Homo sapiens: one gene and its partners. The protein of the gene in region 1 interacts with the protein of each later gene in a biochemical or structural test. Each region holds a gene or a part of one and is shown in the gene's direction. Other genes may lie near its edges.

Region 1 (5,816 bases):
TTTCTACCATTTCTATCATCTGCAAATACGTTATCAGTCAACAGCTTTTTAAAATTTGGTGGCAGGAGAAACTTTATATTGAGAACTGCTATCCGCGAGCTTAACATATTCTCTTGAGTCTGAGGGACAGAGCTGCGTGATGCGGGGTACATAACTTCCCAGCCCCATCAGCTTCAGCCTCCTCTGCCATGCAGTGAGTGCTCAGGATGCCCGCCACAGCCTGAGGGGAGACAGCGATGCCGGGGACAGCCGGCCTGGTGAGCCAAGGCTCTCGCAAATGACAAGCCATTAGTTCTCAGAGCACTCGTGCTGGGAGCACATTTTGAGTGCCCCCCCGCCCCAACCCAATCTCCTCTGGAATTCTCCCAACTTGTCTTTAGCCCTGGCTTTGTCTACTCTACAGTGAGGAGCTCCCCGCATAACAGGGGCGGGCAGGATATGGCCGGCGGGAGGGCCCCTCCTTCGTACTGGGGGCAACCGTCTCAACCCTGAGGGGTCACGGAAAGAGGACAGCCTTTCTTCTCTGGCGAATGCCCTTCCTGCGGGCGACGGTCAAGCATTACCCTTCGGGCAGAACCCGGCTCTGCCCTCTCAGAACACAGGATGCAACCCTGGGTGGGAGCAGGGGAGGTAGACGAGGCTCGCAGCTGGCAGGCCAGGCTCAGGGAAAGGAGGCAGCCCCTGGCCCCCGGGCACTGACAGCACAGTTTCTGCCACTTACAGGAACTACACGGTGGTGAACACAGAGAAGGGCCTCATGGAGGTGCAGAGGATGTGCTGCCCTGGGATGAAGGTGAGCTGCCAGCTCCAGGTCCAGAGATCCCTGTGGACAGCCACCGAGGTAAGCACTGCCCGCAGGCCTGCCCACCGAGGTAAGCACTGCCCACTGGGTGCAGCCCTGGGTGGGGGCCACATTCATAAAAATACAGGACGCCAGGTCAAGTGAACTTTCAGATAACCCCCAGCGCATCCCCGTGCAGTCCCCAAGTAATGCCAGGAGCCCCGAGAAGTAGCAGCCTGTCACCAGGGGCAGCTCAACCCTGCCTGCTGCTGGCTGGAGGCCGGGATTTGCGATGGTGAGGACCAGATGTAGACCCTCAGCAGGAGACGAGACCCAGGAGGCTAGGGACGTGCCTGTGTTTCCCATAACACTGCTAGTCACTCAGCTCTGAAGGCCTCTTGCCTTCACATCAGGGAAATCAGGGAAGTCACTAGAAGGCCCAAGGAGGGGTCTTCTGAGAAGTCCCGAGACAACTGGCCAAACACAAATGTTCTGAGGCAGGCTAGGCACAGGGGCTCACGCCTGTAATCCCAGCACTTTGGGAGGCCAAGATAGGAGGATCACGAGGTCAAGAGATTGAGACCATCCTGGCCAACATAGTGAAACCCCGTCTCTACTAAAAAATACAAAAATTAGCTGGGCATGGTGGTGCGTGAGTGTTCCCAGCTACTCAGGAGGCTGAGGCAGGAGAATCGGTTGAACCCAGGAGGTGGAGGTTGCAATGAGCCAAGATCGCACCATTGCACTCCAGCCTTGCGTACCACTTAAGCCTCAGAAATCTCAGTGTTAAGAAACATCTGACAACAGATTAGCCGAAGTAGGTGCAGCCCAGTCCCAGGCATCCAAGAGATGCTCCCACAACATTTCCTCCTAGAATGGGCGAGAGCAAGGGCTCTGCCTAAAGCGTGCTGTTGCATGGGAAGAACAGTGAACATTTCCTCCTAGAGTGAGGAAAGCAAGGGCTCTGCCTAAAGCATGCTGTCTCACATGGGAAGAACAGTGAGAAGACAGCATTGCGGCGTGAGTCCACTTTGCCAGTACCAGGTGCACACACAAATACCACAGAGAACTTCTGAGAGGCTGTGCCCCCAGATCCCAATGTTGGTTTTCTCTGGGGAATAGATGACGGGCTATTTTCTGTTTCCTCTTTAGACTAGTCTGTCTTTTTCAACGTTTCTACAAAGAGCAGAAATCCATAAACAACCCACCAGAACGTGTCAATCCATGTAACTTTCCAAGACCCATAGGGGATCCCCAAGTCCAAGTGCATCCTCATGGGAATGGCTTGGGAAATGCCAGACACTTTCCAGCCTGGGTCTCACAGTGGACCTGTCTGCCTCTGCAGGACCAGAAAATCTACATCTACACCCTCAAGGGCATGTGCCCCTTAAACACACCCCAACAGGCCTTGGATACTCCAGCTGTCGTCACCTGCTTCTTGGCCGTGCCTGTTATTAAAAAGGTGAGGTCGGGGCAAAGGCAGGTATGCAGGTCTCTGATGCACTTCCACGCCTAGGAGGCGTCTCCTAGCTATGTCAGGGTGGCGCCTGCAGAGCCACACCTAGGACCACCTGGCCTAGGACGTAGACTTAGAGACGGTGGGAGGAAAGATATCAGACCTGGTCCGTCATTAGTGCCTTCCGGTTTGCAAAAACCTAAGTCAAGTCCCCAGCCAGACTGCAGGCCGAATGAAAAACCCCCTTTCACATGCAAATGCCCTGACTCAGGTGGAAGGACTGTTGGTACAAATGGCACGGTGAGCAGTCATGCGTGTGCCCTTCCCCTATCCGGAGCCTCTTCCCCACCTGCCCAGGCCAGAGCCACCTCACAGCCACTTGATCACCAGGTCCTGGAGGTCCTGATCTCCCTCCCTCCATCTCTGCCTCCCGCCAAGTACTCGCCGTCTTACACCAGACGCAGTTTCTCTTTGTGCAGCATAGCCCTGCAGACTCAGCTCTTTAACCTCCTAGCCCTGGCCTTTCTAAATGAGACCCCAAGGGGCACTCTCCCCATTAAAGGCCCAGCCAGCTGTGCTGCACCTTGGGATTAGCCCCAGCCTCTATGAGGCTGGCCTCCAGTCCCTGCTGGGCCCGGCACCCTCCCCACAAAGCACCCCACTCTGTGCTGGGCCCTTGACATCCCAGCCTCCTCCAGGAACAGCCCCTCCACGCACCTCTTCCCAGACGGCCTCCGATTCAGTTCTCAAGACCCGGGGCCTTGTCCCCTCCTTTGAGAAGCTGCCCCTCAGTGGGGGGCAGCTCCCTGGCTTTTCCGGGCTCCTCCGCCCACAGGATTCAGGCACGGCTCAGCCAGCTCTGGTTTCATCCACCCTGAGGGGCCTGTCTGTGCATAGGCGCCCTCACTAAATGCACAAGAAGCCTTTACTGGTGTTGCTTTGTTAAAATGTGACTGTCATCATCCAATTCCAGTTTGCCCATCTACAAAACAGGTATAAGAAGAGACAGAAGGCCTAGCATACCCAAAGGTCTAGGCCGGTGTGCTTGGTAAATGAGTATTATTATTACTTCTGGATGGTCGCAAAATACATGAACTCTTCTCTTCACCCTTCTTCAGTTTCATTTAAAAAAAAAAAAAACAGGTATGAAATGAACCTTAGAGTCATTTATGACCATGGCCCCACAGCGAGGCTACGCAGCTTGGGACCAGGCCCGTACCAGAGCGCAGGAGAACACGACACAAAGTGTTATTGAGGCCACCGCTGGCGAGAGCCCCCAGCCAGGGCACCACCTCCTGCACGACCAGAGGGAATAAAGCCTGCTCTGTGCAGGGCCTCCTGGGCAGGGTGTCTGCCCCCTCCAAGGCCGCCAGCGCGAAGCCTGCATTCTTGCACGCGCACCCACGTTCACACCCAGCCGGGACGTGGCACTCACCGCCCTGGCCGGGGCCTGAGCCAGGACTGCAGATAGAGACCTGGAGCCTGTTTGCCTTGGCTGCCTTCTTTCCCTAAAGTCCTGGGGATGGATTTCGATACGCTTTCTTAGAGCATGTTGTCCTGGACAGTGAGCTACGGGTCTCCACTCCATTGCCCTGCACAGCCAGCCTCCTGAGCTCCCCCAGCTCCCCACAAGGAGGCTTTCTGCCCTGCCCCCTCACTGGCATGAGGCCCAGCTCCCTGCTCTGCCCTGACTCCAGCTTTGTTCTGCAGACCTCTTCCCACCCCCACCACAGCCGACGCGGTGTCTAGGCTGCGGAGCTGCACTCTGTTCCTGGCTCTGCCCTGGGAGGTGCCCCGGGGCGGTCTGGGGTGGGCCCAGCATTCAGCAAGGTCCCTGCAACTTTGGCCTCTGCCCGGTGACCTCTGGCGGGTGTAGAAGAGCTCATGCTTCATTGAGGGGGTGGGGGGCACCCTGAGGACCCTGTCAACGTCAGCTGAACCACAGGCATCTCGATAGATGTAAGCTGGGATGAGGGCTCAGCAGGCTGAGACAGGCCTCCAGAAGAGGGTTGAGTAGGAAGCGATTTCTTCCAGAATTAGTTCAGCAAACACATGTCATCCACTTGGAGCAGGAGCCAGGTGGAGTCACAGGGCCACCAAGATGAAGGAGACTGAGCCCTTCCCTGTGCCAGGCTAGTGCCACGGGGATGCTGGTGGGCTGGGAGCCCATCCTTATGGAACACTCTGCCTGGTGGGGGGGGTGGCAGGCAGGGGGCAGTGCACAGATGCTTGCCATGCCCCCACTGCTGTCATGTTAAGCAGCACCGAGAAAAGGGCGGGGGCACCAGGTCCTGCCTCTGAAGGAGGCCTTGGTGGCCTCAAGGAGAAGGCAGCTCCCTGCTGCTCGCCCTGCAAGAAGCTGGCAGAAGCAGAGGCAGCCCATGTGGTCCAGGTGACACGCAGCCTTACTTGGTGCCACAGGCCCTGCCTCTGGGTGGCACATTCCTTTCTTTGCTGCAGGGATGGTAGATATGGCTCTGCGGAGTCAGAGCTGCACTTCTTTAGGAGTAGCCCCGGCCTTTCTAAGAGATTTGCTGCCCTGAGGCGCACTGGTGGAAAGTGACTGCCCGCCTGGTGTGGGTGCAGATGAGTCCAGTGCCTACTCTGTGTCTCTCTTGGAATGTGTGAAATGGAAGGATGTGACACATCCCTGTCTCCTTCCTTCAGAATTCCTACCTGGTCTTAGCGGGCCTCGCCGATGGGCTTGTGGCTGTGTTTCCCGTGGTGCGGGGCACCCCAAAGGACAGCTGCTCCTACCTGTGCTCACACACAGCCAACAGGTCCAAGTTCAGCATCGCGGATGAAGACGCACGGCAGAACCCCTACCCAGTGAAGGCCATGGAGGTGGTCAACAGCGGCTCTGAGGTCTGGTACAGCAATGGGCCGGGCCTCCTTGTCATCGACTGTGCCTCCCTGGAGATCTGCAGGCGGCTGGAGCCCTACATGGCCCCCTCCATGGTTACGTCAGTCGTGTGCAGCTCTGAGGGCAGAGGGGAGGAGGTCGTCTGGTGCCTGGATGACAAGGCCAACTCCTTGGTGATGTACCACTCCACCACCTACCAGCTGTGTGCCCGGTACTTCTGCGGGGTCCCCAGCCCCCTCAGGGACATGTTTCCCGTGCGGCCCTTGGACACGGAACCCCCGGCAGCCAGCCACACGGCCAACCCAAAGGTGCCTGAGGGGGACTCCATCGCGGACGTGAGCATCATGTACAGTGAGGAGCTGGGCACGCAGATCCTGATCCACCAGGAATCACTCACTGACTACTGCTCCATGTCCTCCTACTCCTCATCCCCACCCCGCCAGGCTGCCAGGTCCCCCTCAAGCCTCCCCAGCTCCCCAGCAAGTTCTTCCAGTGTGCCTTTCTCCACCGACTGCGAGGACTCAGACATGCTACATACGCCCGGTGCTGCCTCCGACAGGTCTGAGCATGACCTGACCCCCATGGACGGGGAGACCTTCAGCCAGCACCTGCAGGCCGTGAAGATCCTCGCCGTCAGAGACCTCATTTGGGTCCCCAGGTACGTTTCCCGAGGTGAGGGCACCATCCAGGGCACGCCCACTGCTCCTGCTCTGGGG
Region 2 (5,816 bases), on another chromosome or scaffold:
CTGATCCAGGAGGTCCGCTGCAGCGGCCAGGAGCTGAGCAGGTAGTGGCTGTGCTTCCCTGGTGGCCTGCTGGCCGTACCACGCATGCAGGCACTGGGCTGCAGTCGTGGAATCAGCACGCAGGCCTCTGCCTTAGTGCACAGTGGCAGGCAGTAGACACAAACACATTGTACGTCTGGTGCGCCTACAACATATGGAGAAAGATCCTGTAAGGAGGAGAGGGCTTGGCAGTGGGTTGCTGTTTTTTGTCAAGGGTGAGTCAGGGAAGGCCTTTGTGAAAAGATGCCATTTGCTCAGAGAGCTGAATGCAGTGAGGAGGTGAGTGCTGCAGCTACCTGGGAAAGATCATTTCAGGCAGAATGGGCGCAGGCCCTGAGGCAAAGTGGCTTAGGCCTGTGCCGGACAGAGCAGGGCAGTGTATCTGGAGAGGGGGCTGGCAGGATACCAAATCACATCGGGCTGCAGAGTCAGTGTGAGGACTTTGGGTTTTCCTCTGAGTGGCATGGGAAGCCACTGGGAGATTCTGAGCAGAGGAGTGGAATTAGGATTAGAGAGCACATGGAATTCTTAACCATGCTTGTCACTTCTTGGTCCACACTCTTGTGACTGAGGGTGGAATTGGCCTGCTCTGTGGGGTTTGAATAAGTTACCCTGAGGTAGAATTAACCTGTCCTTCTCATGCCTGTGGGGCCTTCTCAGGGTGCAGGAGGAGGTGAAGTTGAGGCAGCAGCTGCTCTCACAGAATGACAAGCTATTGCAGTCTCTCCGAGTGGAGCTGAAGGCGTATGAGAAGCTGGATGAAGAGCACAGGAGACTGAGAGGTACTGAGGCCCTTCTCACCTTGAGGCTACTGTGCTTTGGGCTGTAAGACCACCCGACAGCTGGCTGTAGGCACAGGAGGGCAGAGCTCAGCCCTCTCCACTCTGGCCTTGTGGGTAGAGTGGATGGGTGTTGAAGCTAGCTCTTTGACCCACTCTTCTTCTGAAGGAACAGCAGGAAACATAGAAGGACTGAGGCTCAGCACCCAGGCCAGCCGAGGTCCGGGTTCCCACTCACTTGTTCCCAGCTATGTGACCCTCAGTAGGCCACTTCACCCTTTGAGCCCATACCTATCTCTGTAAAACATGTCTCTCAGCACCTGTTGTGTGGAGAATTGTGTTGAAAATTGAATGAGACCATTTATTAAAAGCATCCTAGCAAGATACCTGACACATAGTAGGCACCCAGGAAATGACCTTTATTATAATCGTCCTGCTAGTATATGTTACTTTTTGCCCACTCATTCAGCAAACATTTATGGACACCTCTCACGTGCTGGGCATTGCTCTGGGGATGGTTGTTGGCCTCGTTGCTCTCTGTATCCCAGGAGAGATACCAGCTCAGAGTGCTTCAACTATAACGTCTAATGTTTCAGAATCAATTTTGAGGTGTGGTGAGGTGTTTTTTTTTTTTTTTTATTTTACTAATTTTCCAGATGGTTTCTCTCTATTGAAAGTTTATCTAGAAAGGGGTCATCTCACAGCTTTTATTTTCTCCTCAACTTGCTTTTTTTATTCTTGCTGTTGTGTCTTTTTAATATAGTGTGGCTCTTAAAATCATCCCCTTTCATTCTATAATTCTAGCCCAAATAGATTTTATTACTACTAGACATAATTTCGGGGTTTGGTGTGCAATTTGCTAGGCTTTTATGGCCAGAAGCGAAAATTAATTTCCAGCTCTTATTTAGCGTGTGGAATAGCAGCAATTAAGTCTGCCAATATTTTTGTTTCTAAAGTCAAGTTGTTATTTTAAACTGTACCTAGTTCTTAGGAAGGGGGAGGGCGATGGTGGTGGTGAGTGTAAAATGCGATTGAGTTCCTTCGATGGCTGACCCTTTGGTTGTGGAAGATGTCAGGGCTTCTCTTTGCACATGTCCTCAGAGGCGTCGGGAGAAGGCTGGAAGGGGCAGGATCCTTTCAGGGACCTGCACAGCCTCCTGATGGAGATCCAGGCTCTGCGCTTGCAACTAGAAAGGAGCATCGAAACCAGCAGCACTCTGCAGAGCAGGCTCAAGGAACAGCTGGCAAGGGGGGCAGAGAAGGCACAGGAAGGAGCCCTCACTCTGGCTGTCCAAGCCGTGTCCATCCCTGAGGTGCCCCTTCAGCCTGACAAACACGGTACTGCCCCTGCCTCTCCCCACTTGCTGAGAATGCAGCTCTGAGCATCTGTGTGTGACATGTGAACTTCTGAATGATGCCTTTGCCCCACAGAGGTGTCTTTCCATTGATAGCTGACATGCTGTACCCTAGGAGCCAGGGGACCTGACTGCTAATTAATTAGCGGTCACCTTGGGCAAAGTGGCGTAATCTCCATCTGAGGCATCTTGATTCTCAGGGAAGTGGAATTTGGACTTCCAGACACCCTCAGTGCCTCTGGCCTTGCTCCCTCCTATCCATTTAGTCCTGCCTGCATCACTTTGATGCTGAAATTTCTTTTAGTTTCTCTTACTGCCTTTAGAAGGGAACCTAAACATCTTAATCTGGCTTTCAGTGTCTTTCAGGATCTGAAAATCATCCTGATAGGTTTAAAAAGTGGATCTGTTTTGCATTTGTGTGCAGGTTAATTGCCTAGCCCTGGAGAGGCTGTGGGGGGTACGAGAAAGAGGACCAGACACCTCTACCACCCGCCCACCCAGGGTGTGGAGCAAACCAGTAAATGGTTAGACTCCAAGCAATCAGGCAGCCTGTCCTCTTTGCTCTAGAGATGAAAAACAAAGGCCCAGAGAGTGGATGGGGCTTGCCCAAAGTGGCACAGCAAGTAGGCAGCAGAGCTGGAGCTAGAAACCATTTCCAGCTTCGAGTCCAGGGCTGTTCCTAAACCCCACTGGACTCTCTGGAGCGTTGGGTATCCTGGGATTATCATCCTGACACCCATAGGGTAAATGTGTGTATCCAGTGGGATGAGGAATGCCAGCCTGCTTTACAAGCAAGTATTGTACTAAAGTTTGGACTGACTTTTACTTGGATACCTCTAGTTAAAAAAATAAAAATAAATCTCTTAAGGAGCACCTGGTCAGTCCGCTCGTAGTGATTAGTTCATTGATTTCTCATTGACAAGGATCTTAAAATTTAATCAAAAAGATGATGTAATAATATGAAAAAAGTGAACAGAGAAAAAAAGTTCATGATTCTACACATTGATCATTTTTTAAAATTTGCATATTTTTTCATTTATTAAATATGAGCATGAATTTATATTTTTCAAATTGGATTTTGTGTCATTGTGTGTCCTTTCTTTGTTTTTGCCCAATATTACATCATACATGTTCCCTGTGCTTTCACATGGGCTTCCTAATGATTGTTTGCAGGCTATTCTCAGTCACCAATCCATGACCCCGTTGATTTATTAAAGTGGTCTCTGATTTGGAGCCATAATAGACATCAATGTTAATATGCTTTTTGCTGTTAAATAATATTCTTAGGAGAAAACCCTACAAGGGGAACCTCATAAGTTTGGAAAGGTGCCATATTGCCACCTTCTAAATAGTCTGTACATCAGCAGTGTACAAAGGTAGTGGTTTTTGTGTGACCTCAGCATTGGGCATTACTATTTTCAACACGGGTCTGCACCTGGCCCTTTTTAAGGCTTTGAGGAGATGGGATTCAGGAACTTGTGGGGTAGGCTAGGGGAGTTTGAAGCAGGGAGAACAGTTCTGTGCTTGGGGTACCCAGGAAGGAGAGTTGGGTAGCTGAAGTGAGGAGGCCATCAAACAGCCTTTACCTGCTTTTGAAATTTGCCGAAAGCAGCCCTCATCATGCCTGGCAAGAGGCATCCAGGAGAGCATTCAGAATTCACAGTGCTGCCTCAGCAGAAAAGTTTTATAATTTCCTTGAGTCAAGATCAGAATTATAGGCAGCAGCATTTCTTCCTTTGCAAAAGACTTCTCAGGTCTGTATTTAAGTGCATCTGTTTTAAAAATTCTGTTCTAAAGGCTGATGTCTTTCACTGAGAGTGATTCCTCTTGGGGCCAGCTCTATGGAGCTGACCTCCTGGCTCCTTGGCCTTAGGAACTGTAGCACACCCCTGGGAAATGCTGGAGTGCAGTCAGCCCACCGCCCAGTGGTGCAGGAGCTCGGAAGGGGGATCCTAAGCCCTAGGCTTCCTTGCTCTGTGCCACTGACATGCTGGGTTATGCTGGACAGATCACTTTCTATCTCTGCCCCTTGGTCTCCCCTTCCATGAAATCTGAATTACAGTGTGTTTTGCCCACTGAGCTATTGAGTCCAATAGCTTTTCATATGTGAAAGTGCTTTCCAAATTATAACGTGTTGCACAGGTCATCTGTACAGCATCTATTGGTTTTGCCTCCTTACAGTGTTGCAAATACATCACCCCCCAGATCCTATTGTGGGTTACTCTCATCTCTAGCTTAGGTTAGTGTGGCAGCCTCCAGACTTACTCTTTCAGTACAAAATACAGACCTCAGCTTGACATTGCCTTGCCCAAAGCCCTTGAGTGGGCCCCTCAGTCCTCTTGGTTCTGGCCTTGCATTCTACTTTGTCCTTCCCTGCACCCGGGCCTTGGGTCTATGAACTGCTTATTTCTCCCTGAGCGATGATTCCACTCTTTGTCCCACTGTCTGCCTCTCACCTGCCCATTGTGCTGCCTGGCATTTCTTTCCCTCCTTCTTACCATAGGTCAGTCACAATCAGTCTTAAAACATAAGGTTTTAAAACGGGTATTAGCCTTTGGGAAGCCAAGTTGGGGGTAGTGCCCCTCACCTGAGCCCCAACAGCCTGTGTTTCCCTCCCTTGTCCTTGATCACACTAAAATAAAATTGCTTATTTACTTTTCTGCTGAGAGTTTTTCTAGGGAATGGACTGGGCCTGGTCACTCTGTCTCCCTGGTGTCCCACAAAGGTGGGCTTGGCAGGACAGAGGCCCAGTGAAGATTTGAAGGAATGCTGTGTGTGTATGGATAAGTGAATGTGAGGGGCTTGACTGTATTCTCTTTCAGTTCTCTCTTGAATGCTGACAACAGTGAAACTAACAGTTCTCGTGTTTTGCATTTTGTAGATGGTGACAAATATCCCATGGAAAGTGATAATTCATTTGATCTGTTTGATTCCTCCCAGGCAGTGACACCAAAATCAGGTACAAAGCTGAAGTCCAGGTAACTGTGGGAGCATTGGATGTGACAGTAAGACTTTTTAACTTGCAGAAAAGGGGGGTCCCTGGTCCCAACTCAGGAGGGTATTTGGTAAGGATTTGGGATTTCAAGTTCTCAGCATCCCCAGCTGGTGATCTTCTCCTTCAAGCCAGTTAATCCACTCCTAGGTGTTACCAAGGTTAGAACATCATTGGGTCCCTCTTGCCTTAGATTAAAATTGTGACCACCTTTGTGAGGCTTTCAAGGCCCTCCAGGATCCAGCTCCAGTGGGTCCGTCCAGCCTTATCCCTTAACCTGGTGTAGCCACACAGGGGTCACCATCCTGCAGACAGGCCCACACTTTCCTCTCACTGTGACTTTTAGACCCCCTTTGTCCCACTCTTTGCCGGTAGAAGTCCCGTTTCCTCAAGACTCATCATGAATACACATTTCTCTGTGACATGCCTTTGCTGCTGTCCTTGGTCAGAATGACTCATCATTCGTGTAATTCTTGCTACTTGCTCAATCCAGTTCAAATGCTGCTCCTTCTCAGAAGCCTTCCCTGTTCTCTCCCTCCCTGCACAGATAATTGTTTTTTCTGGCTCTGGCCCTTCATCACTCTGCTGTTGCACCTTCTGCAGTGTCTGTGTTCTGATCAGACTGTGGGCTACTGGAATGCAGGCACCAGC
Region 3 (5,816 bases), about 61 Mb from region 1:
GCTAGGGACGGGGGTGCCAAGGTGTCCAGGCTGCCTCCCACCTGGGACAGGGAGGCTAACTCCACAGCTGTGGGTTCCTGGGTCAAGGGGCTCCACTCCCCACCCGGCCTGCCACCTTCTTTCCAGATTGATTGTGAAACAGTCCAATCCCAGCTGGTCTCTGGCTCCCTAGCTAGAGGGAGAGGTGCTTGTTTCTACTCTTCCTGCCCCAGCTGGGCCAAGCCAGTGCCACCGGGACACCCCTATCCAAGGCCCCTCTCACTTTACCACCTCTGGGACATTTCCCTTGTGTATTCATTCCACAAATATTTAGGGAGCACTGCTGGGTCCCAGGCTCCAAGTCACACCCTTTGGCTGGGTTTGACCTGGCACAGATTCTGACTCTGAAACTCAGCATCAGGGCAGGTTCAGGGAGCTGCCTGGCCAAGCACGGTCACTCCTCACAGGCCTTGGTCTCCCCACCCCTGCTGCAGGGTGGATGACCTGGTCAGCTTTGGGGACATCGGGCCCAGTGAGCTCGGGTTTATAAAGCACTGGGCCCCACCGGGAAGCAAGGCTAACGTCTTGTGGTCTCCAGTTATCCTTTCCCTGGCATTGTACACCAAGAGGTTTGTGCCGTTCTGCCTGGGGTCTTCCTGAGGCTGGTTCTGGTGGGAACTGGGCTGCAGGAGGAGAGGATGAGCTTAGGAGCCGTGTGGCCCCCAGGCCTGGTGGGCCTGGGACTCAGCCCCACGGGAGCTCATCTAGCTGGGGTTGAGGCCTTTGGGGCAAGCAAGGAGTCCCCTCTGCAGGCAGGCTTCCCTGGCGGTTGTCCTGGCCCAGGCTTGGAGGTGGCACCTGGGAGCCCTAGTGACAGAGCGCCTGGTCAGGGAAGGGTCGGCACCAGAGGCAAGCCCTTCTGGGAGCAGCTGATTTGGATGGAAGCTCTGTGCACCTGAGAGGGGGAGTGTGGGGACTGCACGGCCTCTCCAGTGCCCCGAGGACAAACTGATGCTTTGTGAGTGCTCTGGGCCCTCCCGGACTTGCCAGACACAGGGAGGGTGCAGTGGGTGGGGTCTCCAGCCAAGGAAAGCCCGCTCTGTGCACAACTCCTAAGGATGACCAAAAAGTCCCCTGCCCTGGAGGAGCACATGTGCTCAGAGTCAGGAGGAACCCATAAGTGTCTCTCATGCCAGTGAATTCCCACACCTGGCTCCTGGATGAGGAGAATGACCCAGCTGTGGGGGTATCTCATGCTGCCTCACAAAAGGTGACTCTGTGCCTAGGAGTCTTCCATGCATGCAGAGCTGAGCAGGGGCTGCTGCCCAGTTGGGGTCAGAGGGGCGGAGGCTGTCGAGCACTAGGTAGACAGCAGGCCAGCAGCGGGCAGCAGGTTGGGCCAGGAGGGAGCAGAGAGTAGGGGCCAGGGCAGGCTGAGCAGGAAAGGAAAAGGCTGCCTGGGGTCCTGAGGGCTCAGGGAGGACTCCAGACAGCTGGCCTTCTTATGCCAGCCCGCTTCTGTGGGAGAGGCCCTCTGCGTAGGTGACTGGGCAGGGAAGAGGCTAAGACACTGAAAGATTGAATTCCTCACCCAAATGGCCCAGAGATGCCCACCGCACACAGTGTCCTGGGTGCAGAAGGCAGGAAGGACTCATGGGAGGCTGTCCTGTGGACTGAAGCAGAAAGTCCTTCCCGTAAGATGCGCTCGTCGCCCTGAGCAGGAAGGCCCAGGCTGCGGAAGCAGTGCCTGAGACCTGAGCAGCAGGAAGGACACCAGTAAAGCTCATCAGGAGGCATCTGGCCGCCTGCACCTACCGGGCCTCAAGGAGAGAGCTTATTTCTGGGAGCCTCCTTGGTAGAAAGAGGTGGACTAGCCAGCAGGTTGGGGAGGAGCATTGCAAATGGAAGCTTCTGAGGGCAGAATGAGTTCTGAACTTGCTGAAGCCAAGGCTGGCCCTCCTGCCCAGGGCGAGCAGTCTGCCTGGGCCTGGGAAGTTGTCCCCTTCTGAGGAGGTGCCCTCCACCCCACCAGAGCTCAGCCCTAGGGGCCAGGAAGGGCTAAAGCGAGAAGAGTGAGATGTGAGATAAAGGGGACCGTGTCTCTTCCTGGGAGGGTGTGGGGTCCAGGCAGCACCTTGTTCTGGCGCACAGGCTGCCAAGCAGATGACAGCCATGGCCTGACTACTAGGTGCAAGCACTGGTGGCAGGAAGAGGGGGTGGACAAAGCAGGACAGAGCTCTTGCCCTGGGGATGCTCATAGCCCTGCAGCAGAGCAGTGGAAAGGAAAGCTGAGCTGAGCGTGGGGCCAACCGCGCCAGAAACAAGCGGAGCCACAAAGCCACCATCAGCCCCCAGGTGGCTTCGTCCTTTTGCCAACTCTGGGTCCAACTCATCGCTGAAGTTGGCAGCCATGACCCATCCAGCCCAGATAATTTATAAATTTACACCAATACTGGGCAACGGTTCTTAACATAGAACTTTATAAAGATGGACAAAAAAGATAAGTTGAGAATGACAAACAAAGGAAGAAGCAGCTTCTATCTGCAGTTGCAGGAGGAGGTGAAGGCTCGGGGAGATAGACCAGGGCGGGAAGAGGCAGGATGGTGGTTGGTTAACATGAAGTCAGCAGCATGAGCCTCAGGCCCGGTGCTGCCTCTTCCTGGTGACTCGGGCAAGTTACTTCATGTCTCTGGGTCTCAATTTCCTCTCCTGTCCAACAGAGATAATTATAGTACCTATGAGTTAGGGTTGTTGAGAGGATTAAATAAGATAATAAGTGAATGCTCTGAATGGCATGACTGGCACATACGTACATGTTCAGCAAGAGATAACTATTATCACCGTGATGATAACTGGTGTCAGAGGAACAAAGTGCCAGGAGAGACCATACCTTGTTCGGGGGAATCAGGAAAGGCTTCACGGAGGAGGTGACTTTGAAAGAACCCTCCTCTGAGGAGAAACAAAAGCTCTCAGAATGCCCAGGAAAGCTGGGAAGAAACAATAATGCCAGGTCTATTTTTTTCCCAAATAGCATATTGTTTGTCCACTGAGGCTTTCTAAGGAATAACTTGAGACTCCTCTTTCTGGGGTCTAGACTTGGAGGTCTTGAGGACTTGAAGTGGGCTGCCCCTAGTGAAGGGATCGAGAGCCGGGCTGTGGCCCTGGCCCTACTCCTTTTGGGGACTGGAAGCTTTTTTCACATGCTGGTCCTAACTGCATGAGGAACTGTGTTCTGCTGAGCCCCATCTAAAGCATACACTTGGTGATGTGGCAGGCAGAGGGGCCAGACAAGGCCACGGCAGGCTCCTGGATCACTCTGGCAAGTAGCTTAGAAATGCCTAGTAATCGTGGGCAAGGTGCAGTGGCTCACGCCTGTAATCCCAGCACTTTGGGAGGCTGAGGTAGGCAGATCACAAGATCAAGAGATCCAGACCATCCTGGCCAACATGGTGAACCCCGTCTCTACTAAAAAATACAAAAAATTAGCTGGACGTGGTGGCGCGTGCCTGTAGTCCCAGCTACCCGGGAGGCTGAGGCAGGGGAATCGCTTGAACCCAGGAGGCGGAGGTTGTAGTGAGCTGGGATCGTGCCACTGCACTCCAGCCTGGCCACAGAGCAAGACTCTGTCTCAAAAAAAAAAAAAAAAGGCCAGTAATCGTGAGGTTCCATCTCAGAGACTTTTGTTTTCTCTTTTTTTCTTTTTATTTTTTTTTTTGAGACAGAGTTTCGCTCTTGTTGCCCAGGCTGGAGTGCAGTGGCACGATCTTGGCTCTCTGCAACCTCCGCCTCCCTGGTTCAAGCGATTCTCCTGCCTCAGCCTCCCAAGTAGGTGGGATTACAAGCACCCACCACCATGCCCGGCTGATTTTTGTATTTTTAGTAGAGATGGGGTTTCACTATGTTGGCCAGGCTAGTCTCGAACTCCTGACCTCAGGTGATCCGCCGACCTCAGCCTCCCAAAGTGCTGGGATTACAGATGTGAGCCACCACACCCAGCCTGCTTTTTCTACAAAGGATTATCTGTTCTATGAATTTAGGAAAGGTAATCCTAAAGCTTATTCACCTAAGAAAAACAAGGCAACCCCAGAGCATGACAGGCTTTCTTGGGCTGGGGGAACTCACATGTGAAAAAACAGGTTCCCTCATAACTACATGAGAGGCCGCAACTGCCTCAGCCCCAGCAAAGGGACACCTCTGCTGGCCAGCATTTCCTACAAAACCTCATCACGACACATCAGGCAGGGCAGAGACCCAAGTATTCACATAGGGCCAGTGATGACTTTTTTTGACACCTGTGGATTCTCCGTGGCAACCTATTCCCCAAAAGTGCTGCCTCGGTCAGCCAATCCCAGTGTCTCTCTGCCTAGGCAACAATCTCTTGTGCTCTGGTCTGCCCACAGCCTCCATGCACTCAGCTCTTTGGGCCTCTTGCTAAGGGGCTGGAAGCAGAGCTGTGTCCTTCAGGCTGTCAAGGACCTGGTGAGGGATCCTCTGGGTGTCCAGGGAAGCAGGTTCAGAAAGCTCAGTTCAGCTGGTGCTGTATTTTGATCTCTGATCCCAGTGCAGCGGGGACCAGCCTACTCAACTCAGTGCAGATAGCAACAAACCAGTCACCTTGCCCAAGACCTCCTGCTGCCTGCCTGCCTGCCTGGTGACCAGGACTCCTAAAGGCTGCAGCAGCAGCAGCAGAGTTAAAACTTTAAAACCGGGAGGACTGGTTCTGTGGCTCAGCTTCCTGGCCTGGAGAGGCTCTAGCCTCCATTTTCTTTCTTTCAGCTTATGGAATTGTGCAAGAAAGCACAGAGGGTGGAGGGAGCGAGGGGACCAGTTATGCCACAGCCTCCTGCACCACCAGAGCACAGTCTCAGATCAGCAAAGAGGAGCTCTGAGGAGGAAAAGGCTGCCCCAGGAAAGAGCTGGCCATCTCAGATTGCTGTAGCACATTCAAGCCAAAGGGAGTCCCCGGAGGATGTTTCGTCCAGCCCCCATAATTTTAGAGCGGGAAACAGAGGTCCAGAGAAGGAAAGTGGGTCCTGAGGCCACACAGCTAACTAATGGCAGAGTCAGTTTCCAGCCCAGGGATCCCCAGCTGCCTGCCCAGCACTCTTGCTACCCAGGCTGAACCCCCACCCCCGTGCTACCAAGGGGCCCATGCAGGAGCAGGCAGCAGCCACTGGGTAACTTGATGGCTTGGGAGAGGCGGCCTGGCCTGACACATTGGGAGGCTGGGCAGGTCCCCGCTTTGCTCCTATTGTGCTATTTGGGTGCCTCCTGCCATCCCCCTGCATTCTGCTAGACCTGAAACCACAGCCCAGCCCACGCTTGTCAGTCAAGTGCTTCCCGAGGATAAACTTTGCACACAGCACCCAGGCCACTCTTGGGGACCAGGCCACTCTCTGTTGAAGAGATCTAACTAATTTATAAATTGATTGATTGAAGTTCTTTTTGTCCCAGGTAACTTCATGTCTTAGGCCAAAGAAGGGAGTCATGATGAGTGCCAGAGATGAAACGGAGATTCTGGGGCAAAGGGTAGGGGAGGCACCTGGGAGGCCCTGTTCTTCAGGTGATCTTCTCATTAGTGTAGACTTTTGACCCCAGGCAGACATTTACATGTCCAATAGCCACCATCAGAGGTCAGTTCCCAGAAGCAGGAGGCCTGTCACTTGCCACCGGTCACCAGGCCCAAGCTAGACAAGAAGACTTTTTCTATTCCACTAGAGTGGATCTTGCTGATGATGTGTCTGGGATCCAGAAAGGTGGGGAGAAGTAGAGGTCTCAGCTCCTGGGGAGGGATGGAGCCAGCCCCGGGGGAAGAATGCAAGGCCGCCAGTGAGCAG
Region 4 (5,816 bases), on another chromosome or scaffold:
AGCAATCCTCCCACCTCAGCCTCCTGAGTAGCTGGGACTAAGGGTGCACACTATCATGCTTGGCTAACTTTGCATTTTTTGCAGAGATGGGGTTTCACTGTGTTGCCGAGACTGGTCTCAGACTCCTGAGCTCAAGCGATCTGCCCACGTCACCGTGGGCCACCGTGCCCGGCCTCCTCAACATATTAATTGATTATGTTGCCCTTAATTTATTTCCATTTTAATTACTGACTTTTTTTCTTTTTAAAAAATTATTTTATTGAGGCCTGATTGACAGGTAAAAAGCTGTGCATATTTAATGTCTACAAGTCAATGAGTTTGGGGGTAAGCATAAACTTCTATCTTAAATATTTAAATATATTATGACTGCAACTTCAATATACAAGTGGTGAAATATCTGGATATTATAAATAGCACTGAGTAGCAGTGTTTGTAGTTTAATATTAACAAAGAAATGTTATATTTAACAGAAAAAAACTTTGATCGGAACGTGCCCAAAAAGCCTGCTGTGCCATTGAAGACTGATCATCCTGTCATGGGAATACAGAGTGGAAAAAATTTTATAAATACAAATGCAGCTGATATCATCATGGGAGTGGCTAAAAAGCCTAAACCAATTTATGTTGATAAAAGAACTGGAGACAAGCATGATCTTGAGCCTTCAGGACTAGTTCCAAAGTACATCAATAAAAAGGTAGCCTTGTGGTATATTAATAAGAGGGCTGAAATTCAAATAATTTAAATATGGTGTTCATGATGATCATCTATGTTATCATTATTAGTGCTCTCATTGGACACATTGTCTACTTTGCTGATTCTCATTCTTCTGCAATCTGTGTTTGGTCCAAATGTAATGGGATGAAGTTACAAAGAACCCATAGTAAACAATTCCATATAGTTCAGTAGATAAAAGTTATTGTTTTCCTTAATTTTGATTATTAACATATTTAACAATTTTAATAAACATTCTCTGAAAGATATTTTTGGTTAGTTGGAAATGTCACTAAAAGCAGTCATTACTGTAAATCTAGAAGGAATAAGCTGTCAGATGGTCTTAAGATTTAGTCATTAATTGCAGTAACTTGGCAGCTGAATAAGAAAAATGAAGCAGAATGCAGCTTTAGAGCCATCCATCTCATCAGTGTAGTATAAATAATTCACATTCCTATTTTAACATGAATATATTTATTTGGTTTTGGTTTTGGGTAAAGACTTGAAAGTACTGTACAATAATCTAGTCCTTTTGGGTCCTTCATTTGTATCTGAAAAGGTGTGTAATTTCATTGGTGAACATTATAGTTTAAATATAGATTTTTTTTGAGACATATTCTCATGCTGTTTCCCAGGCTGGAGTACAATGGTGCAATCTCAGCTCACTGCAACTTCCAACTTCCGGCTCGAGTGATTCTCCTCACTCAGCCTCCCAAGTAGCTGGAATTACAGGCATGCATCACCAGGCCTGGTTATTTTTTTGTATATTTAGTAGACAGGGGGTTTCACCATGTTGGCCAGGCTGGTCTTGACTCCTGACCTCAAGTGATCCACCCACCTCAGCCTCCCAAAGTGCTGGGATTGCAGACATAAGCCACTGCACCCAGCCAAATACAGATCTTTAAAATAAAAAAGCTTACAAAAAATCTTATTTAATGCTACTTTATTTTGCGCACTTATAAAGCTTAAAAGTGCTTGAAACACACAAAATATGAATGCAGGCTGGGCACAGTGGCTCACAACTGTAATCCCAGCACTTTAGAAGGCCAGGAGGATTGCTTGAGGTCAGGAGTTCAAGTCCATCTTGGCCAACATGGTGACACCCCATCTCTACTAAAAATACAAAAATTAGCCAGGCGTGGTGGTGTGTGCCTGTAATCCCAGCTACTCGGGTGGCTAAGGCACGAGAATCGCTTGATCCCAGGAGGCGGGGGTTGCAGTGAGCCAAGGTCGCGTCACTGCACTCCAGCCTGGGTGACAGAGCGAGACTCGGTGTCAAAAAAAAAAAAAAAGAGTGCAGAATTCTAAAGAATAATAAGTTGCATCAAGAAGAAATGAAGGAAGGGAGGGAGAAAGGAAAGGAAGGAAGGAAAAAGGAAGAGAGAGATAAAGAAAAAGGAAGAGAGATAAAGAAAAAAAGAAAAGAAATTGCAATAGTGATGTACAGGGACCTAAAATTGAAGAGTCCAGTGATCTACCATGATAAATCCAATGCCAGTGGAAAATCAAAACAGGACCCTCAAGGCTGTTTTCAGAGGACACTGTCTTCTCAGGAATCTAGGAGTTCCCAGGATAAGCCAATAAAGTTACTTCAGGCTTCTCCAGGTACTTCCTCCTTCTGTGGCCCCTGGAAACTGTTTTATAGTCGTTGTCCCACAGGATAGGGAAAAGTGGAAAACTCACTCTCATGGCTCTTAAAGCCACTTCCAGTCCATTATTTCTCCATGATCATATGAAAAGTCTTTACTGGTCATGCCACCACCTGTCACACACTCTGCCCCTCCCTTCTGGCTGCTCTCTAAGCTGTCCACTTGAATGCATTTTCTACCTTCAACAGGAAATTTGGAGTATCCATCATGGAAACAGAAAAATACCAGAGTTTACCAAACCATGAAAGCACTGTGCACCTAATGCCCTTTTGGTGTTGCTGACTAAGCAATCAGTGCTCATGAAAGACTTACTCAATTTACTTTTCCCTTATCAGAGTTAAGTTTTAAAGATCTATCATTGGTAGGTGAGATAGTAAATAAATTCTTTTAAAGTCAATGTCATATTTTTATAAAATGAGTGAACTCCCATTTCAGCTCCAAGTGAATTATATGCCATTCATACCATGAGAAACAATTTCTGAAAACAAGCAAGGATAGATGATCACATGAGGTATTTAGCAATACCAGTAAAGACATTCTTTCAAAGTCTAACTCTGCCACTTAGTAACTGTGATTTCCAACAATCCATTGGATTTATCACAGGGTTGTAGTGAGGATTAAATTATATAAAGTATATTGAGCACTTGACACAAAATGTGACACCTAATAAAAGAACAAAGAGTGAATAGTATAATATATGCAATTTTATTAACAGTATGCATTAGCCTCCGGTGATTCAGCCCATAGGAATATTTCAGATCATTGAAGCTTTTGCTCATTTGTGAGTTTTTTTTCTGAACTGTATCACACCATTCCCTTTCTTTTTAAAAACACTTAATTTAATTTTTTTTAGAGATGGAGTCTCACTATGTTGCCCAGGCTGGTCTTGAACTTTTGGGCTCAAGCAGTTCTCCTGCCTAGCTGTCCCAAAGTGCTGGGGTTACAGGCTTGAGCCACTGCGCCCAGTCATTCTCTTTCTTAAACAGAGTATGCCAAATATAATTTAATCTTTCTGTGATCCTGCAGAATCATCATGATGAAGCTCCATTATTGTACTAAGCTGTAATGAGGTGTTTCCTTCAGTGTTTCCTGAAGTGGATTGGCCTGTCTCACTCACTGCACCAGCTGACCAGAATACTGGCCTCCCAGAGTCTATTTGTATTGTCCTCTGCAGCTTCCAGAACACATTTATATCTAGGATTTCTATCCCTTGTTCAGTCAGGATGGGTTAAGTTACACTGTGATGACAAACAATCCCCAAATTTCAGTAACTTAAAGCAACAAAGTGTTATTGTTTGCTTTTGCCACGTGCCCTTTGAGGGTTGTTACAGGCTCTGCTTCTTGTCCTTCTTCCAGGACCCAGAAAAATCTAAACATTGCTTGTCACTAGACCAGACAGGAAAAGACACAGCAAGTCATCCACTAATTCTTAAGACTCCTATCGAGAAGTGGCAGAGGTCACCTCCACTGACACTGAGCAATTCAGGGCATATGGCTACATCTTACTTTATGAGGACAACACAGGAAAGTGTTGTCCTACCAAGTGTCTAGAAGGAGAACAGAATATTTGTCAGAATTTTAATGACTACCATACCTCCCAACTGCTGCTTCTTCGGAGAGTTCCTCCCCGACCTCCTTATTTATCTAAAATAGCCCCTATTATTTTCTTTTCCCCCACTATCCTTCTTTATTTTACTTCAGAACACATACATATTATTTCATTCTCTATTTTTGGTGAGTCTCTGTCACCATAGAATGCAAATTCCCTGAAGACGGAAACTTTGCCTTTTTTATTCACTAGTATTCCTAGCACCAAGTACATTCTCAAACATCTTTTGAAGAAGGAATACATAGTAATTCTGTTTCTATAGATGGTGAAATCAAACGCATTTACTAAGCTGAAAGAATCACAGCTGATGGCTTCACTGTCAGTCGTTGTGACATGGGAAAATTCCCTTATTCCCCTCGCAGAGTGTACCATAGGGCTGTGGCTCACTTCTTCAGTGCCCCACTGCTCACACTTCTAGGGGGAGCATGCCGAAGGGCAGGTTGTGAGGCTCTGACTCCAAAGCAGGGTCTATGGGTCGATGTTTACAGCTCCTGAAGCCGCAGTGGGCGTGTGTTACAGGGTGCTCTTTTGGTTTAGCTGTCCATAGGTGGCTTGTGTTTGCTCAATTAGACTCCCTGCCTTATGACAAGGACAGAGGGCTTCCAAAGGACTTTCTGTATCCCAGGAGTCTTGCCTTGGTATACTTGAAGAATTGGATCACACGTGGGCTTGGAGAATGAGTGCAAGGTTTTATTGAGTGGAAGTAGCTTCAGCAGATGGGAGAGCCAGAAGGGAGATGGTTTTTCCCTGGAGCCGGGCAGCTCTGTGGCCCGGGCTCTCCTCCCACCACCCCGGCCAAACTCTGCGTTGTTCCACTGATCGATGGCCTGCCGGCATGCTGGTGCCCATTGGTGTGCTCTTTTGTTGGCACGCCCCTGTCAACAGCCTCCACTTATACGTTCTTCCATTGATGTGTTCCTCTCGACGTCCAGCCATTTGTGTGCCTGCCTGCTAGGGTCTCGGGGGGTTTTATAGGCACAGGATGGAGGCATAAGTTTTCAAAGACTTTGTCTTTTCTTTAACGAGACCACGAAAAAGAGACTTCAAAATATTCAAGATATTTCAGGTAAAAACTGAAGCATGTAGAAGGTAGAAGGTAGAAAAGCCAACTCTTGAATATCTTATTCAAGATATTTCAGGTAAAAACTGAAGAACGTAGAAGGTAGAAAAGCCAACTCTTAGGAGTAAAGTATCAGCCAGGAGCAGGCGTGGGAAACATTCAGAAAAGGGAAAACAAGCAACTGCAATAACAACTCCATTTATTTATGTATTTAGAGATGGAGTCACACTCTGACACCCAGGCTGGAGTGCAGTGGCACCTTGGCTCACTGTAACCTCTGCCTCCCAGATTCAAGAGATTTTTGTGCCTCAGCCACCCGAATAGCTGGGACTACTGGCACATGCCACGATGCCTGGCTAATTTCTGTATTTTTAGTAGAGACGGGGTTTCACCATGTTGGCCAGGCTGGTCTCGAACTCCTGACCTCAAGTGATCCACCCCCCCACCCCTCAGCCTCCCAAAGTGCTGGGATTACAGGTGTGAGCCACTATGCCTGGGCAATAACAACTCCATTTTAAAAGGCAGGAATCTACTAGCTCTCAATGGAGGGAAAAAAGTCACTGAATTTTGTCAATTTACAGGGTTTTGAACAAAGGATTTAGTCTGTACCATTTCTTTTTCTTCCATCATCAGTTGATACGTACCCATATGTAAGATTGCATACAAAATATTGATTACTTTTTTCTGCAAAATCTTTTTAGGATTATGGTGTCACACCTGAATACATATGTAAGCGAAACGAGGAAATAAAGAAAGCCCAAGAAGACTATGATCGTTATATCCAGGA
Region 5 (5,372 bases), on another chromosome or scaffold:
CCCAGGCTGGTGTGCAGTGGCACAATCTCTGCTCACTGCAACCTCCGCCTCCCGGGTTCAAGCAGTTCTCCCTGCCTCAGCCTCCTGAGTAGCTGGAATTACAGGCACCTACCACCAAGCCCAGCTAATTTTTGTATTTTTAGTAGAGATGGGGTTTTGCTGTGTTGGCCAGACTGGTCTGGAACTCCTGACCTCAGGTGATCCACCCTCTTTGGCCTCCCAAAGTGCCGGGATTATAGGCGTGAGCCCCTGCACCCAGCCTCTAAGTATCTGTTGAATGAATGACATAGGTGCTATTATTAACCCCATTCTGCAGATGAGGAAACTGAGGCCAAGAATTTCAAGAACTCATAATTCAAGGTCTCATAGTTACTAAGTCATGGAATTGGGACTCAAATTCAAGTGTTTGCCTCTGCTTTGCTTTAATATCACATACTAATTTTCATACCAGTCAATAAATTCGAACTCAGATCATCGGTGTGGCAAGCCACATTTGCAGGATAATGACGAGACAGGGAAGGGTGACAAAGTAGTAAAAATGTCCATGTGGGTTGGAATGATTGTGGAACCAAAGAGTAGCTGCACAGAGACATTTGAGGTGAAATGGGGTAGTGTTATCATAGTTCCTAGAAACTACTGTTTGCCCATTTGCTCAGAGGTAACTGCTGAAATTAATCTGTGGTTCTGGGCTGGGATTCTGCCACAGGTTCCATCTGAGGACAGTATGGAGAAGGTGAAAGTATACTTGAGGGTTAGGCCCTTGTTACCTTCAGAGTTGGAACGACAGGAAGATCAGGTAAGTGTCTGAGAAGGGAGGATTCAAGGTGAAATGATGCAGTACAAAAGATTCCCAGGAATGCCTTCTGTGACAACTGTATTTTCTCCCTTCTCAGGGTTGTGTCCGTATTGAGAATGTGGAGACCCTTGTTCTACAAGCACCCAAGGACTCTTTTGCCCTGAAGAGCAATGAACGGGGAATTGGCCAAGCCACACACAGGTTCACCTTTTCCCAGGTATGGAGGGTACTGGTTTGTGAACAAAAGACCAACATGTAAGGGCAACTTTATTCCCTCTTTAGAGGGAAAGCTTCTCTTCCTGACTGTGAGTTCCTTGTATATGCACACCTACAATTTTGAGGGCCCTAGTTATGTGTTAGTCAATGTGTCAAGTAACATATGTATATCAGTTCTGAAAAATTCTATTGTTATTATCATTATTTCCTTATTTTCCTCACAAGGATAGTGTGGCTCAATGAATGTAATATTGCTGAAGCCATGTAGCTAGTCACTAGTAGAGTTAGGACCTGAGTCTAGATCCATGTATCTCCAAAGCCCATACTTGTGGGCCATTATATTGCCCCATTGTGTGTGCAGCATCAGGCCTAGGGCATAGCATTCCTTAAGTGTTTGTTGATTTGGTGGAAAGATGGACTAGCAGAGAGTGCTTGAGTCCTCAGTGTTTAGGGAACAGCCAGCAGCATTGCAGGAAGAAGCTGCTTGAGTGGTCTCCAGAGCCAACCACTCAGGAAGGAATATATCTGCTGGCTCTGCACAGGAGGCAAGTGGGAGATGAAGGAGAGGCCTCTAAAAAACTGGGTCTCTCTCTAGATCTTTGGGCCAGAAGTGGGACAGGCATCCTTCTTCAACCTAACTGTGAAGGAGATGGTAAAGGATGTACTCAAAGGGCAGAACTGGCTCATCTATACATATGGAGTCACTAACTCAGGGAAAACCCACACGATTCAAGGTGAGTAGTAAGCCTTCACGGGATTCCTGATTGGCTGGTAATGGTGTTGTTTTTACCTTTTGAGACTCTGAGTTAGGGGGAGAAGGGCACTTGCCTCAGCTGTCCATCTTTCATATGCCTCCAGGTACCATCAAGGATGGAGGGATTCTCCCCCGGTCCCTGGCGCTGATCTTCAATAGCCTCCAAGGCCAACTTCATCCAACACCTGATCTGAAGCCCTTGCTCTCCAATGAGGTAATCTGGCTAGACAGCAAGCAGATCCGACAGGAGGAAATGAAGAAGCTGTCCCTGCTAAATGGAGGCCTCCAAGAGGTAAAGCATTGGTATCCATGGCAGTGGGGGTAGGGGGTACAAATCTCGGGGAAGTTTTGTGCTTACCTTCTCCCTGTGCCCCTCCAGGAGGAGCTGTCCACTTCCTTGAAGAGGAGTGTCTACATCGAAAGTCGGATAGGTACCAGCACCAGCTTCGACAGTGGCATTGCTGGGCTCTCTTCTATCAGTCAGTGTACCAGCAGTAGCCAGCTGGATGGTATGTACCGTGACTGGGCTCTGCCAAAAAATAGTAGGAACTCACTCCCTGTTCCTAATAGCTGCCAGGAGTACAGACCAGAGGTTGCAATCTAAGGTCTGCCTTCCAAGGCCCCTGCAGGCCAAAAGAGAGGTGAACTGCTCTAGGTTGATGCCCTATACATTGGCTTCTTCTCCAGAAACAAGTCATCGATGGGCACAGCCAGACACTGCCCCACTACCTGTCCCGGCAAACATTCGCTTCTCCATCTGGATCTCATTCTTTGAGATCTACAACGAACTGCTTTATGACCTATTAGAACCGCCTAGCCAACAGCGCAAGAGGCAGACTTTGCGGCTATGCGAGGATCAAAATGGCAATCCCTATGTGAAAGGTAAAGGAACATGGGGAAAGCTGGCATGAACCCTGGAGGGCAACTGGGGAGAGACTGGCAAAAGAGTTGGATGTTCCCATCTTACACCCCTCTCCTTTGGCCCCAGATCTCAACTGGATTCATGTGCAAGATGCTGAGGAGGCCTGGAAGCTCCTAAAAGTGGGTCGTAAGAACCAGAGCTTTGCCAGCACCCACCTCAACCAGAACTCCAGCCGCAGGTGAGTAGATTGTAAGAATAAACTCTTCACTGTGTTCCAGGAAACATTAGTCCTCTGCCTGGTCATGGAAAATGTGCAATGACTTTTTGTTTTTCTTAACTTCCAGTCACAGCATCTTCTCAATCAGGATCCTACACCTTCAGGGGGAAGGAGATATAGTCCCCAAGATCAGCGAGTAAGTTTATCCATTTAGAAATTTGGGCTTCTTGGCCATAAATGATAGTTGGGAAAGCATGGAGGAGGTCCTCAGGGGAACTATGTGTTCTCCTTCTTTGGGTACAGAGATTCTTAGTGGGCCGTCCCCTCTCCAGAATTATACAAAGGGCCAGAAGGCTCATAACATGTGAGGCCCTTATGTCAGATCCTGTGCATCATTCTAGGCTGTCACTCTGTGATCTGGCTGGCTCAGAGCGCTGCAAAGATCAGAAGAGTGGTGAACGGTTGAAGGAAGCAGGAAACATTAACACCTCTCTACACACCCTGGGCCGCTGTATTGCTGCCCTTCGTCAAAACCAGCAGAACCGGTGAGCTTTTGACTATAATTCCTGGGCTCTGCAATTTGCTAAGAGACTTCCTGGACACCACTGGGGATGGTGCTAGGATACCCAAAGGGCTGGTGTTCTGCTCACAGCTCTATTATCTCTGATTCTCTGCCAGGTCAAAGCAGAACCTGGTTCCCTTCCGTGACAGCAAGTTGACTCGAGTGTTCCAAGGTTTCTTCACAGGCCGAGGCCGTTCCTGCATGATTGTCAATGTGAATCCCTGTGCATCTACCTATGATGAAACTCTTCATGTGGCCAAGTTCTCAGCCATTGCTAGCCAGGTGAGAAGCTAGAGGTGTGATGGGTGTGCGCACTTGGAACTGGTAACTCTAAGAAAGCTCCTAGGGACTACTTATGGAGTCAAGTAAGATATTTTTTTTCCCTCTAGCTTGTGCATGCCCCACCTATGCAACTGGGATTCCCATCCCTGCACTCGTTCATCAAGGAACATAGTCTTCAGGTATCCCCCAGCTTAGAGAAAGGGGCTAAGGCAGACACAGGCCTTGATGATGATATTGAAAATGAAGCTGACATCTCCATGTATGGCAAAGAGGTGAGAATACAAGAAAGCTTTAGTGTAGCAGCTTAGTAGCTACACATTTTTCCATGGTGCCTTCCAGGTGGGCTTGTGCCTTCTGAGGGCATGAGCATCTGATGACCTCTGACATGTGTGTCTCTCCTAGGAGCTCCTACAAGTTGTGGAAGCCATGAAGACACTGCTTTTGAAGGAACGACAGGAAAAGCTACAGCTGGAGATGCATCTCCGAGATGAAATTTGCAATGAGATGGTAGAACAGATGCAACAGCGGGAACAGTGGTGCAGGTACTAGCTGAGTGACCCCTCTTGCTCTGTCACCTGAGACAGAGGGTGGGAAGTAAGGAGTTAGGTGGAGTTGTGCCTCAAGATCTGTTCCCCAAGTTCACTCCTCAGAACCTTCACTTACCTCTCTTTTCTCCTCTGTTTCTGACAGTGAACATTTGGACACCCAAAAGGAACTATTGGAGGAAATGTATGAAGAAAAACTAAATATCCTCAAGGAGTCACTGACAAGTTTTTACCAAGAAGAGATTCAGGTGAGTTGCCCTGAGCCAGCTCCAATTAGCTGCTCAGATTTCCATCACTAGCTTGCCTGAAGTAAAGAGATTTTATAAACTACTCCAGTAAGGGCAGGAATATATAACTCCCTTTTCTCTATTCCCCATAGTGCTTTGGGTTCAATCTATGTTTGGTGAATTGATTAAGGGTTTAGTTGGCCAGGAAATCGTATTAAGTGCTAACAACAGGTTTTCAAGGGATCAGTGTCACAAGTGCTTTGTTTGTTCAGTCATCTGTCTTAGCAATATTTTTCTGGCTCTGCAAAGAATTGTGCTCTCTGCTTCCCTCTTAGGAGCGGGATGAAAAGATTGAAGAGCTAGAAGCTCTCTTGCAGGAAGCCAGACAACAGTCAGTGGCCCATCAGCAATCAGGGTCTGAATTGGCCCTACGGCGGTCACAAAGGTTGGCAGCTTCTGCCTCCACCCAGCAGCTTCAGGAGGTTAAAGCTAAATTACAGCAGTGCAAAGCAGAGCTAAACTCTACCACTGAAGGTGAGGAAAGAGACAGGCAGGAAACATAACAGTGGTTCAGGGAAGAGCTGTTACTTAAACCCAGGCCTTCTAACTCCTGCTCTAACATAATTTCCTAAACTGCAAGCTACATCCCCCTGACATTTCAATCTAGGATACACATAGCCTCACTTTTTATATTTGCTGCAAGCTACTGTTACCTCAGTTAAAGAGGTTAGTCCAAGGCTAAAAAAACCCCACATATTTTAAGTTTCCTGTTTCCTTCCCTCAGAGTTGCATAAGTATCAGAAAATGTTAGAACCACCACCCTCAGCCAAGCCCTTCACCATTGATGTGGACAAGAAGTTAGAAGAGGGCCAGAAGGTAATTACCACCATTCTCTGTTTACCAAACTCTTA

The links.
Region 2: of the proteins of LRRK1 (region 1) and CDK5RAP2, one has a biochemical effect on the other in vitro, tested with the Homo sapiens proteins (one study listed by BioGRID).
Region 3: the proteins of LRRK1 (region 1) and PAK6 form a complex in vitro, tested with the Homo sapiens proteins (one large-scale study listed by BioGRID).
Region 4: the proteins of LRRK1 (region 1) and ENKUR form a complex in vitro, tested with the Homo sapiens proteins (one large-scale study listed by BioGRID).
Region 5: the proteins of LRRK1 (region 1) and KIF20A form a complex in vitro, tested with the Homo sapiens proteins (one large-scale study listed by BioGRID).

The regions. Positions count from the first base shown.
Region 1 is NC_000015.10:101,060,448-101,066,263, forward strand, and holds part of LRRK1 (leucine-rich repeat serine/threonine-protein kinase 1), read left to right. Parts: intron 1-723; coding exon 724-841; intron 842-2,126; coding exon 2,127-2,243; intron 2,244-2,954; exon of another isoform or gene 2,955-4,904; coding exon 4,905-5,758; intron 5,759-5,816.
Region 2 is NC_000009.12:120,403,352-120,409,167, reverse strand, and holds part of CDK5RAP2 (CDK5 regulatory subunit-associated protein 2), read left to right. Parts: coding exon 1-41; intron 42-699; coding exon 700-821; intron 822-1,919; coding exon 1,920-2,156; intron 2,157-5,054; coding exon 5,055-5,132; intron 5,133-5,816. UniProt on the Homo sapiens protein: Potential regulator of CDK5 activity via its interaction with CDK5R1. Negative regulator of centriole disengagement (licensing) which maintains centriole engagement and cohesion. Involved in regulation of mitotic spindle orientation.
Region 3 is NC_000015.10:40,240,721-40,246,536, forward strand, and holds part of PAK6 (serine/threonine-protein kinase PAK 6), read left to right. Parts: intron 1-5,816. UniProt on the Homo sapiens protein: Serine/threonine protein kinase that plays a role in the regulation of gene transcription. The kinase activity is induced by various effectors including AR or MAP2K6/MAPKK6.
Region 4 is NC_000010.11:24,990,524-24,996,339, reverse strand, and holds part of ENKUR (enkurin), read left to right. Parts: intron 1-470; coding exon 471-694; intron 695-5,730; coding exon 5,731-5,816. UniProt on the Homo sapiens protein: Adapter that functions to localize a calcium-sensitive signal transduction machinery in sperm to a calcium-permeable ion channel.
Region 5 is NC_000005.10:138,180,716-138,186,087, forward strand, and holds part of KIF20A (kinesin-like protein KIF20A), read left to right. Parts: intron 1-706; coding exon 707-796; intron 797-893; coding exon 894-1,013; intron 1,014-1,607; coding exon 1,608-1,746; intron 1,747-1,870; coding exon 1,871-2,058; intron 2,059-2,145; coding exon 2,146-2,275; intron 2,276-2,453; coding exon 2,454-2,648; intron 2,649-2,754; coding exon 2,755-2,866; intron 2,867-2,972; coding exon 2,973-3,041; intron 3,042-3,246; coding exon 3,247-3,390; intron 3,391-3,523; coding exon 3,524-3,689; intron 3,690-3,796; coding exon 3,797-3,961; intron 3,962-4,091; coding exon 4,092-4,231; intron 4,232-4,379; coding exon 4,380-4,482; intron 4,483-4,796; coding exon 4,797-4,995; intron 4,996-5,245; coding exon 5,246-5,337; intron 5,338-5,372. UniProt on the Homo sapiens protein: Mitotic kinesin required for chromosome passenger complex (CPC)-mediated cytokinesis. Following phosphorylation by PLK1, involved in recruitment of PLK1 to the central spindle. Interacts with guanosine triphosphate (GTP)-bound forms of RAB6A and RAB6B.